Regions from separate parts of the Homo sapiens genome. Here region 1 is linked to region 2. A link means that fine-mapping ties the variant in region 2 to the expression of a gene that starts in the linked region. Tissue or cell type: whole blood. Region 2 holds a variant in brackets; the other region holds the start of a gene. All regions are shown on one strand. Distances are between the middles of the regions.

Region 1 (4,797 bases), 200 kb before region 2:
GAGTGGCTAGAATTACAGGTGCCTGCCACCATGCCCAGCCAATTTTTGTATTTTTAGTAGAGACGGGGTTTCGCCACGTTGGCCAGGCTCATCTGGAACTCCTGACCTCAGGTTATCTGCCTGCCTCGACCTCCCAAAGTGTGGGGATTACAGGCGTGAGCCACCGTGCCCAGCGAGAATGTCCCCTCTAGAATCCTTCAGCTCAGACAGTCTGTGACAGCGAGCCTTTTTTGAGGCCATAATCCAGATACTTCTGGAAAAGAAAAGAAAATTTCAGGCTAATATGGAGCTGGGTTTTTTAGTTGTCTTAAGGGGGTGGAGCCGTTGTTTGTGCCTGGCAGCATCAACCCTTAGGTCTGGTGAGGGAACTTAGCTAAGAGAGTTCCCACTGCCTGCTGTTCACAGTACATGCTGGCTGGTATCGACAAAGAATGAACCTAAAACACAGGAAATGTTGAATTTGTCTGGGTTAAATTTTGCCTCATGAGAAGATAAAAGATCAGAAGGATTTAAAATGTTCCAGAATGCTTTGCTGGTTTTAAGGAATCATTTTTCCCAAAGGTGGCAAATGCTGCTTTTTAAATTTATGGTTTTCTTGATACCCCTTCAGCCTTTGTTTCTCTCTCTTAGGACTACTACTTTTTAATTAATTTTCACTTAACTTTCCAATACTGATGAAATAAAGAAAAATGAGGGTTATTTATATATATTTTAATAAATCCAGTTTGATTTTTCAACTTAAAAAAAAATTAACTAGAACTGAGAACCAGTCCTGGCCTCACCACCTTGGACTTACACTTAACCTGTGTGATCTCAGTGTCTTCATCTGCAAAATGGGGACAAAATAGCTCATAGGATCATTTTGTAAGGATCACATAAAGTAAGAAGGGTGAAAGTGCTCCATAAAGTAGAAAGGGCCTCACTAATGGAAAGGGATTATGATTTCTTTCTTTAAATGTGAAGTTAAATGGAGGATAAAGGGTGGAGGCACTGATAACATTTTAGCCTTCAATAATCACTTTTTAATATTTATGAGGAGTTTCAAAATCATTTCCCTCTCTTTCATACTGCTTTTCAAACGGCAAGGGTCATTATTTGTCCGGCCCAGTCTGGGATAAGTAACTATCCCAGGGTAAGACACCAGGTCAAGTGCCAAAATACAAATGAGAATTAAGCATAGCAGATGGGTGATTGCTGGGCCCTGAATTTCCTTCCCGTTAGTGAGCTTCATGGAATGCAGGCAAATTTATCTCCATTTCTGTTGTCAATCTTGTAACTTTTAAGTGAGATGAAATTCAGTTGGCTACCCTTTACAGGGACTTTATTTCCCATTGTATTCAAGACTGTCAGCAATGAATATAAACTGTTTGTAAAAATCCCATCGTTAGAATCTTCCAGAAACTGAGGCTGGGAGAGATTAAATATCTTGCTCATGGCCTCACAGCTGGTGAGTGGCAATGCTGGTGCTACAGCCCATGTCTAACTCTGACCACACACTCTTCTTCAGAAAAAAGCCATAATGTAAATAATAATAAGAAGAATAACAACAACAATAACGGCAGCTAACACTGTGTGCTAGGCACCGTTCTAAGCTCTTTGCATGTGTTAACTCAACCAGCAAAGAACCATTTTTGGAACATTCTTTCACTAAAGTAGCCCGGTATTTTTTTCTTTCCCCTCAGCTGAATGACACTGCAACCCGAAATCACAACTCTGTTTTAGGTTCCTGGTGGTGCCTGCTTCCTCTTCTAGTTTGTTTAGTCACAGAATTCGATTCCTGTTGGCCCATTCCGCGCCTACAAACAGGCTTAGCGCTCCACTGAAATGCGGGAGGCTCCTTAACTCTTGTATAAACAGGTAAGGCGGAGGGGGTGGGGCGCGGATTGCGGACATCTGGGTTTCTTGGGAATTGGGATGGGGTGGGGGTTCGAGCCAACTCCCCAGAGAGCAGGCAAGGTGAAGCGAGGGCTTGGCTGCTGTTTCTAAATGCAGTGTTTTTTTGTTCCCTTTCTAGAAACCCTCCGTAACTCTAGGTCAGAGCGCACTAAAATGAGCCACTTCTGAACGAGCAGCGCCCAGGCCCCAGGCCCTGCTGCGAAGGCCCCGGCAAAGGTCAGGGCCCCGTCCGCGTGACGCTCCTGCCTGCGCGCGGCCAAGCCATGCTCGGCCCCAGGTAAGGACGCCCCGGGAGCTCGCCCCGGGAGCTCTCCCCGGGCACGCGGGGGTCGCAGAGATCCCACCTCGTCCAGCGACTTGTTTATGGGGGGAAGAAGGGGAGCGGGGCGGTTCCGATCGGCTTGAAATTCAGCAGCAGGTTCCTAATTTCTCCAACGTGGTTCTGGCTGGGTTTCTCGGAGCAGCCCGAAGGGGGCCGAGCGTCTGACTCGGACAGATGCCCCCAGGTGGAGCAGGTGCCACTTCTGGGTGTCTGAAAGGCATGTGACTTTTGGGGCGGGGAGAGAAGTCCGTCTGGTCAAGTCCCCCAATCTCTGCCATCAAGGCCGATTTTCTTTGAACCTTCAGCAAAGGTATCTGCGCTCCTAAAAAACAACAGGAATGTGGCACTGGCCTTTAGCCAGGGGAGGCTCAGCCAGCAGGATAAAATTTCAGGGCAGATTTACGGGAAGTTGCCGGTGTTGGGAGTAAAAATCTGGTTTGGTGAGTTTAAGGGAAGGGAGTAGACGAGAGACAACCTTGCTACTGTGAGGCGGATGGCCTCGGCAGGGGGCGGGCGGCGGGAGGAGAGAGGGAGGGAACCGGGAAGGGCCCGCAGACTAGACGCTGAGCGCTCCCGTGCGCAGCGCCCCACGCAGCCGGGACGCGGCGCCGCTCTGCGGGTGGAACCGCCGCGCGCTCCCGGCCTCGGGAGCTGAGCCCGAGAGAACTTCGCTGCCTTCGGGTCGCCGCTCCCGCTTTCCACTGTGGAATGTGCAGCTTGGGATAGAGAGAAACCAGGGTTTGGGGAGCGGTCCTCCTGGAGACTTTCTCTCTGCAAGTCTCCAAGGTTAAGCAATTCTGACCCACTGGAATTCCCAGAGCCTGGGAGTTAAGCCTAAAACGCTCTGTTGCTTTAAGCGGCGCGGTGGGGAGTCGCTGGACACTCCTTATTTTGGTTTTACATTAAAAAGAAGGCGGACGAGAAGATGTTGTAGGTGACTTCCTAGCTGTGTTAAGTTGCTCCTGGGCTGTGAATGGTGTTAATTTCTGAAGTGGGCGGCTCCAAAAACTTAACAAGGAAAGGTAAGGTGGTTTTTGGTAGTCCTTCTAACTATTGTCCCTTAATCTTACATTTGGGTCCCAATTTTTGAAGTGTATATTTTTTTCTTATTCTTCTCTCTTTAGCTCTTATCCCTCATGCTATCACTCATCTTCTGTCTCTTGGTATATTTAGTGGGAAATAAAGGGTTTATAAAACGGTTTTAAAAGGGTCAACCTCTGGGAAGGCAGATAATCATATACAGTCAGTCCCATCGTGTTTCCTGTAGTGATGAATCTTTTCCCATAAAAGAAACTGATTTTTTTTTTTCACTCTTGAAAATACATGATTGGACCGCCCAGAAGCACAGGTGACTTTAGACTCAGATTATTACAGTGAGACTGAGGAAGCGTCCTGGACAGGAGGCATCTCATTTAAGTGTTAACCAAGGCAGAGGGGGGTCTTCCTGCAGTAATTTACGTCTGAAAGTAACACTCGGTAGAGGTGTAGTTGTTTCAAATTAAAAATTCAGCCTGTAGAAAAGGGTAGGACTGACGAATTATGACATCTGACAAATTAGCAGTTGACCGGATATTTAAGAAATCAGATAAAATAAATGGAAGTGGAATTTTTCAAATAAATGACTCATTTTTTAATTAGGTAAAAGTTCAGCCACTCTTGGGTACTGTCCCAAGGCATAAGTGATAGGAAGATACCATCTTCAAGGTACTTACAGGCCATTACCGACCTGAACTAAAAATCAAACCTTTTTTTTTTATCTGGTGGTATTTTAATGACTCACTGTTTTCTTTAGCAGGAATATAGATTTTAAAATGTATTCTTTAAAAGTTTTAAGGCAAGGTCATACGAATTTCTCAGGGGAGGGAAAGCAAAGGGTTGACAACCCAACATGAAGGAGTTGCCGAAGTTTTGAGCTCAAAAGGTTGGCAATTAGATCCAGAGCATTTGAGAATTGCAGGTGCCGATTCTAAAAGGTGAAAGGTGGTCAGCGGCGTAACACACAACCTCTAGATAAACCAAAGTACTCAACCTAGAGCATAAGAAGAGATCACTTTGTGGGAGTTTGTGTTGCTATTAATTTAAACAATGATCTTTGTTAGATCAATGACTTGAAGTCTTGGAGGGAACTAAAATCAACCCAGTCTGAAAGGAAAACAGAAGGAAAAAAAGAAAGGAGGAGATGGTTTGGTTTTTAATATTTTTTTCTGGTCTGCTTTACCCTTCACCTTGTTCTGATATACACACTGTTGGCCTCTTTGACTTAATTATTGCATGCTGGAAGGATGGGGTCTCAGAAATTTCCCAAGCACCTAGCTTCATTATTAACTTTCAGTATGTGTCAAATGAAGAAATAAGCCTAGCTGTGCCGTCCTTTACCTGGCTAGGTAGGCCATGCTTTAAATTAATTAGATCAAGATATTCTGAATATCAATCAATTATTAAAGATTTATTATCTTCCTCTTGGTTTTTGCGTTTACAGAAGTTTGTAGGATTGAGAATTCATCATCATCATTTTTTTTACCAATCTCTATATTTTTAATAGTCAACATATTTATTTTTGATTCCCCCACTGTGCTGCT
Region 2 (4,797 bases):
TCATAAAAGGGACATCACATGAATGAAAAGAGAAGCCATGGGTTTGGGGACCTACTCTTGATTCCAGGCCGTAAGCCAGTGCATGTCTATGTGCAAAACTTGGTGTTGGAGTGGGCAGCCTGAACCCAGGTGTTGGGCCGTCCTGTAGCACATGGAAAGGTCTCTCTCACATGTTGCCTTCCCTGCCATTTCCTCTCCCTTTTTGCACTGGTTATTAAACCTACGTCCACACATGTGGAAAAGGTGACTTGTGTCTTGCTGTGAACCACAGTCTTTCCAGTTCTGGAGCTCCTCTCCCTGGTTGTAAAATGTCACTGATGAGACACTCATTGTTTAGGGTTGTAAGAAGCAAGTTAACGTAAGGCTAAAAGTGCAGGCTCCAGAGTCACACATTGCATTGCTTAAAAGCTGTGTCACTTTGTGCAGGTCATTTAACACTTCCACACAACTCCATATAATCATAGTACCAACTCTACTGGTGGCTGTGATGATTCAATACTGTCATACAAATAAGGCACTTAGAATAGTGCCTGAGTTTGGGGGTTTGTTTTGTTTTGTTTTGTTTTGTTTTGTTTTGTTTTGTTTGAGACAAGGTCTCACTTCCATTGCCCAGGCTGGAGTGCAGTGGTATGATCCCAGCTCACTGCAGCTTTGAATTCCCAGGCTCAGGTGATCCTTGCACCTCAGCCTCTTGAGTAGCTGGAACTACAGGAGTACGCACCGCCATGGCTGGCTAAGTTTTGTATCTTTTGCAGAGACAAGGTTTCGCCATGTTGCCCAGGCTGGTCTCGAACTCCTGGCCTCAAGCCATCCTCCTACCTCAACCTCCCAAAGTGCTAGGATTACAGGCATGAGCCACCTCACCCAGCCTCTGAGTTATTAATTGTTATAATTATCATTATAATTATAAATTAAAATTATTATAAATTATAATTACTATTTGATTATAGTTTTAAAAAGTAATCTTAGGCTAGAAGTTCCTAAGTTCCTTTGAGCACAATTTTGGAACTCTGATTTGCAAATTTTGTAACAGAAATTAGAGCTAATTCCTTTATAAAAATCCAGGAAGAAATAATTATTTTAATTCACCATTTCACATATGCTGAATTGTTTATTTTGAAGATGTATTAACATATAGGGAGACCATACCAGCATTTACTACCAGGCATTCTATGGCTCATGAGGTGCACCAAATATTTTGTTAAATGAATGTTTTATTTTATTCAGAATCTCTTTTCAATGAAGCATCTCACAGAACTAGTTCCATGGCAAACACTTTGGGAAATACTGAACCACAGTCTTCCCATTCATACTCCTGTTTGTTCTGAAAACATCTTATGTTGCACTTTCAAGTAGACAGAAGGAAGTAGCAGGGGCTTTTCTAGAGCCAGTGGTGGCCGTCAACAGTTCAGGCAACTTTACTTAGCTTGTCCTTGCCCACTTCTTCCTCATTTGGAAACTGCTCTTTATCCTTCAAAACTCAGCTCGAATATCCCCGCTGCTGAGACATTTTCTCCAACTTCCCCATTAGTTGGTTCTTTCTCTAAGCTTCTACAACAATTTGTATACATTAATGGTGTCATCTCTTAGGTGGGAGGTGATGGAAACCATCACATTGGCTGAAAATTGTGTATGGTCACAATTTTTTAAGGTCACAGCTTAAGAAGCTGTCCCTTTGGAGATCAGTATATTTGGTTTCTCTAAGTTGACACAGTCTGTTCCTCTCTCTGTCTCTGAGACAGATCATATTCCATCAGTTAAGTATGAGTTGAGGCAGCTGGCATGTATCTAGAGGCCATGTTTAAGGAAAAACACTGATTTTTAATTACTGTGAAATCAATTGTGTGGATGGTAGATTCTCCGCTGCCTTCTCTAGCTCACTCTGGGGCATAGACTGATTGAGTGGAATGGTAAGTAGAAGATTCCGGAATACAGTACAGAGAAGGTCCTCCTTATCCGCAGTTTCTGCATCTGGATTCAACCAACCGTGGCTTGAATAAAGACAATAAAAAATAACAATACAACAATAAAAAAATACAAATGTCAAAATACGATATAACAACTATTTACATAACATTTGCATCATATTAGGTATTATAAGTGATCTAGAGATTATTTTTAAAGTGTATGGGTCCCAAGACTTTGGGAGGCTGAGACAGGAGGATTGCTTGAGGCCAGGAGTTCAAGACCAGCCCTGGGCAACATAGTGAGACCTTGTCTCTATGAAAAAAAATTTTTTTACAGTATACAGGAGGATGTGCATAGGTTAAATGCAAATACGCCATTTTCTCTCAGGGACTCGAGCATCTGAGGATTTTGGTATCCACGGAGGTCCTAGAGCCAATCACCTGTGAGGATACTGAGGGGCAACTGTATTTCACCTTTCCCTCAGCCTTCCAGGCCTCTCACTTTCACAAGGTGGCATCACTGAGTTTGAGGATGCAGCTCCACCTTACCTCTTCAGTGGCTCTTCTCCCACTTGCTTACAATAATTGCTGTTTGCCCGCCCCTCTGCCTTTCTCTCCCTTGCTTTTGTGTCTTTGTATTCCCGTCTTCTGGGAGAGGCTTGTTGAATGAATGGATGATAGGTACATACACGTGTTCAGGAAGGCTCCTTTTTGTCTCTTCTCCTCAGGGCCGCCCAATAACTCCAGTATACACGGTGGCTCCAAACGTTCAGAGAATTCCTACTGCCGGGATCTACGGGGCCAGTTACGTGCCATTTGCTGCTCCAGCTACAGCCACGATCGCCACACTACAGAAGAACGCGGCAGCCGCGGCCGCC[A/G]TGTATGGAGGATACGCAGGCTACATACCTCAGGCCTTCCCTGCTGCTGCCATTCAGGTCCCCATCCCCGACGTCTACCAGACATACTGAGGCTGGTGACCAGCACGAAGACAGACCACACAAACACCACTGAAGGAACGCTTGACTATTTATGAAGAAGGAACATGTTGGATTCACACATGCAACCTGAAAGTGAAGAATGTTAGCAGATTTATTTCTGAATTATTTTATATACATGAAGTTTTCACTAGTTTTTTAAGACTATTTTCAACTTAGCATGCCTACGTTCATACATTTCCAAAAGACTTGCAATGGTTCGTGCCTTCATTCCATCTTTTAAAAATTTGTATGCTGTACTACATTTGTATAGAGGTTTTTGTTGTTGTTTTTTTAAGGATATATTTTCAGTATGAAGGTTATTTTCTTAACTTCTGCACTCCAGAGATTTCTATTTTGTAGTACCTTCAATAATATATCAACTATATATTAAAAAAGCACACTTGAGGAGCTAGGGAACTATTTTGAAAAATATATACAATATTTAAAGATACAAACAGTAGTGCTTAAAAATACTACATAAAGCATTATTTTAAAGGTTATACTGGAAAGTGCAATTTTAAAATGAGTAAAACCTCTGTATTTCTGCTGGCATTAAGGGTTGATGGTGTTACCATGTATCATCATGGCGGTACTATTTTTTAAAAGAAATTAAACACTGGATCTCTCCTTAAGCCAACATTGAAAAGACTTGCCGCACTTCTGAGTCCAAACACTGGAAAGCTCTCCTTTGCCACCGTTAGCCGGGGCTCATTCTCCATGTGCCTTAGCCTTAAACATGCCCCCACTCCCACATCTCTCACCCTGTCCCCTCCTCCCCAGATTCCCAATCCCACCGCAATGTTTGGCAAGCCTAGGACTGATAAGTAGCTCTGATAGAGGAGCTGGTGGCTTTTATACTTCTTCCTGGGTTTTTGTTGGGGTTTGTTGTTTCGTTGTTTTTTGTTTTTTTTTTTGTTTGGTTGGGGAAGTATTGTCTTCTACGTGTGCTATTTTCAGTAGCAGAGTAAGCACAAGGTTTTAATCGAGTTGCATAAGACACCTTTGCATAGCTATTTAATTGCCCAATGTAAAACTTTAATGCCATTTCTAATGCTTTTATTCATTTTTGAAGTATGAGTTTGTAGGGACAAAGAATGTATGTTATCGTAGACAAGACCCCCAGAGACTCTTTTCAGCAGAAAGTTATGCTTCTAGTTGCCTTACCATGTTTCTTGCAAAACTGTCCATGGTCCTCAAGGGTGTTGGAAACATTATGTTTATTAAATGGGCCTCTCTTCCTTTGCTGTGCACTTGATGGGTGAACTGGATTGGGGTGTGCACATCCAGGAGGAGGAGGAGAGACCTGTAGAAGTTTAAAGATAGTTTGTAAATATCTTCTAATGCTTGTTTTTAGTCCTTTTATGTTGGAGAAGTTCATGGTATGTAGTTTAATGCAAAATGAAACCATTTTATTTCAATGTTATTAAAAAGGTTTGTTTTATTAGGAAGTTAATGTATTGTTGCAGTGTTTTGTGCCTGTTTAAAGGCTTTTGTTTAGCAGAGTGAATGTAAAATACAGTAAAATGTTAAGATTGTCATCTACTTTTTAAAAAAAAATATCAACTTGGAATTGTTTTTTAAAGGCTCAATCAAGGAAGTGAGGTGTGCAATAAGGTAGCAAGTAAAACGCAGTTGCGTTTTTATGTCATGTTAGAGATCCATACAATTTTCCACTCACGGGATTTTTGTTGATGGCTGAATTCTTGTGGATTCATAAGAGGATCATGCCCTTAGCAAGTACTTTTGTTTTGTTTTAAATTAAGAGATTCCCAAATGCCTTTTTCCCCCTCATCTTGAAATGAGATGAGTTTTTATGTGTAAGCAATATTTATTTAACTATTCTATAAAATTATTGAGTGCCTACTGAGGCCTTTAAGCACCGCTAACATTCCTTTCCATCATTCTTTTAAATG

The links. PIP is the estimated chance that this variant, and not a neighbour inherited with it, causes the effect.
Region 1: RBM47 starts here. The variant in region 2 is fine-mapped to the expression of RBM47 in whole blood (TOPMed, PIP above 0.99). The same link has a PIP of 0.9 or more in monocytes.

The regions. Positions count from the first base shown.
Region 1 is chr4:40,627,839-40,632,635 of GRCh38, reverse strand. RBM47 (RNA binding motif protein 47) reads left to right here and starts at 2,772. Exons shown (of 7, transcript NM_001098634.2): 1 at 2,772-3,240. RefSeq lists enhancers at 2,909-2,978, 2,161-3,038, 3,039-3,915.
Region 2 is chr4:40,423,982-40,428,778 of GRCh38, reverse strand. RBM47 (RNA binding motif protein 47) reads left to right here. Exons shown (of 7, transcript NM_001098634.2): 7 at 2,636-4,797. The coding sequence ends at 2,875. It overlaps RBM47-AS1 (RBM47 antisense RNA 1), which reads right to left and starts at 2,646. Exons shown (of 2, transcript NR_199039.1): 1 at 2,597-2,646; 2 at 1,197-1,991. RefSeq lists an enhancer at 2,158-3,357. The variant A/G (reference allele first, on the strand shown) is at 2,786.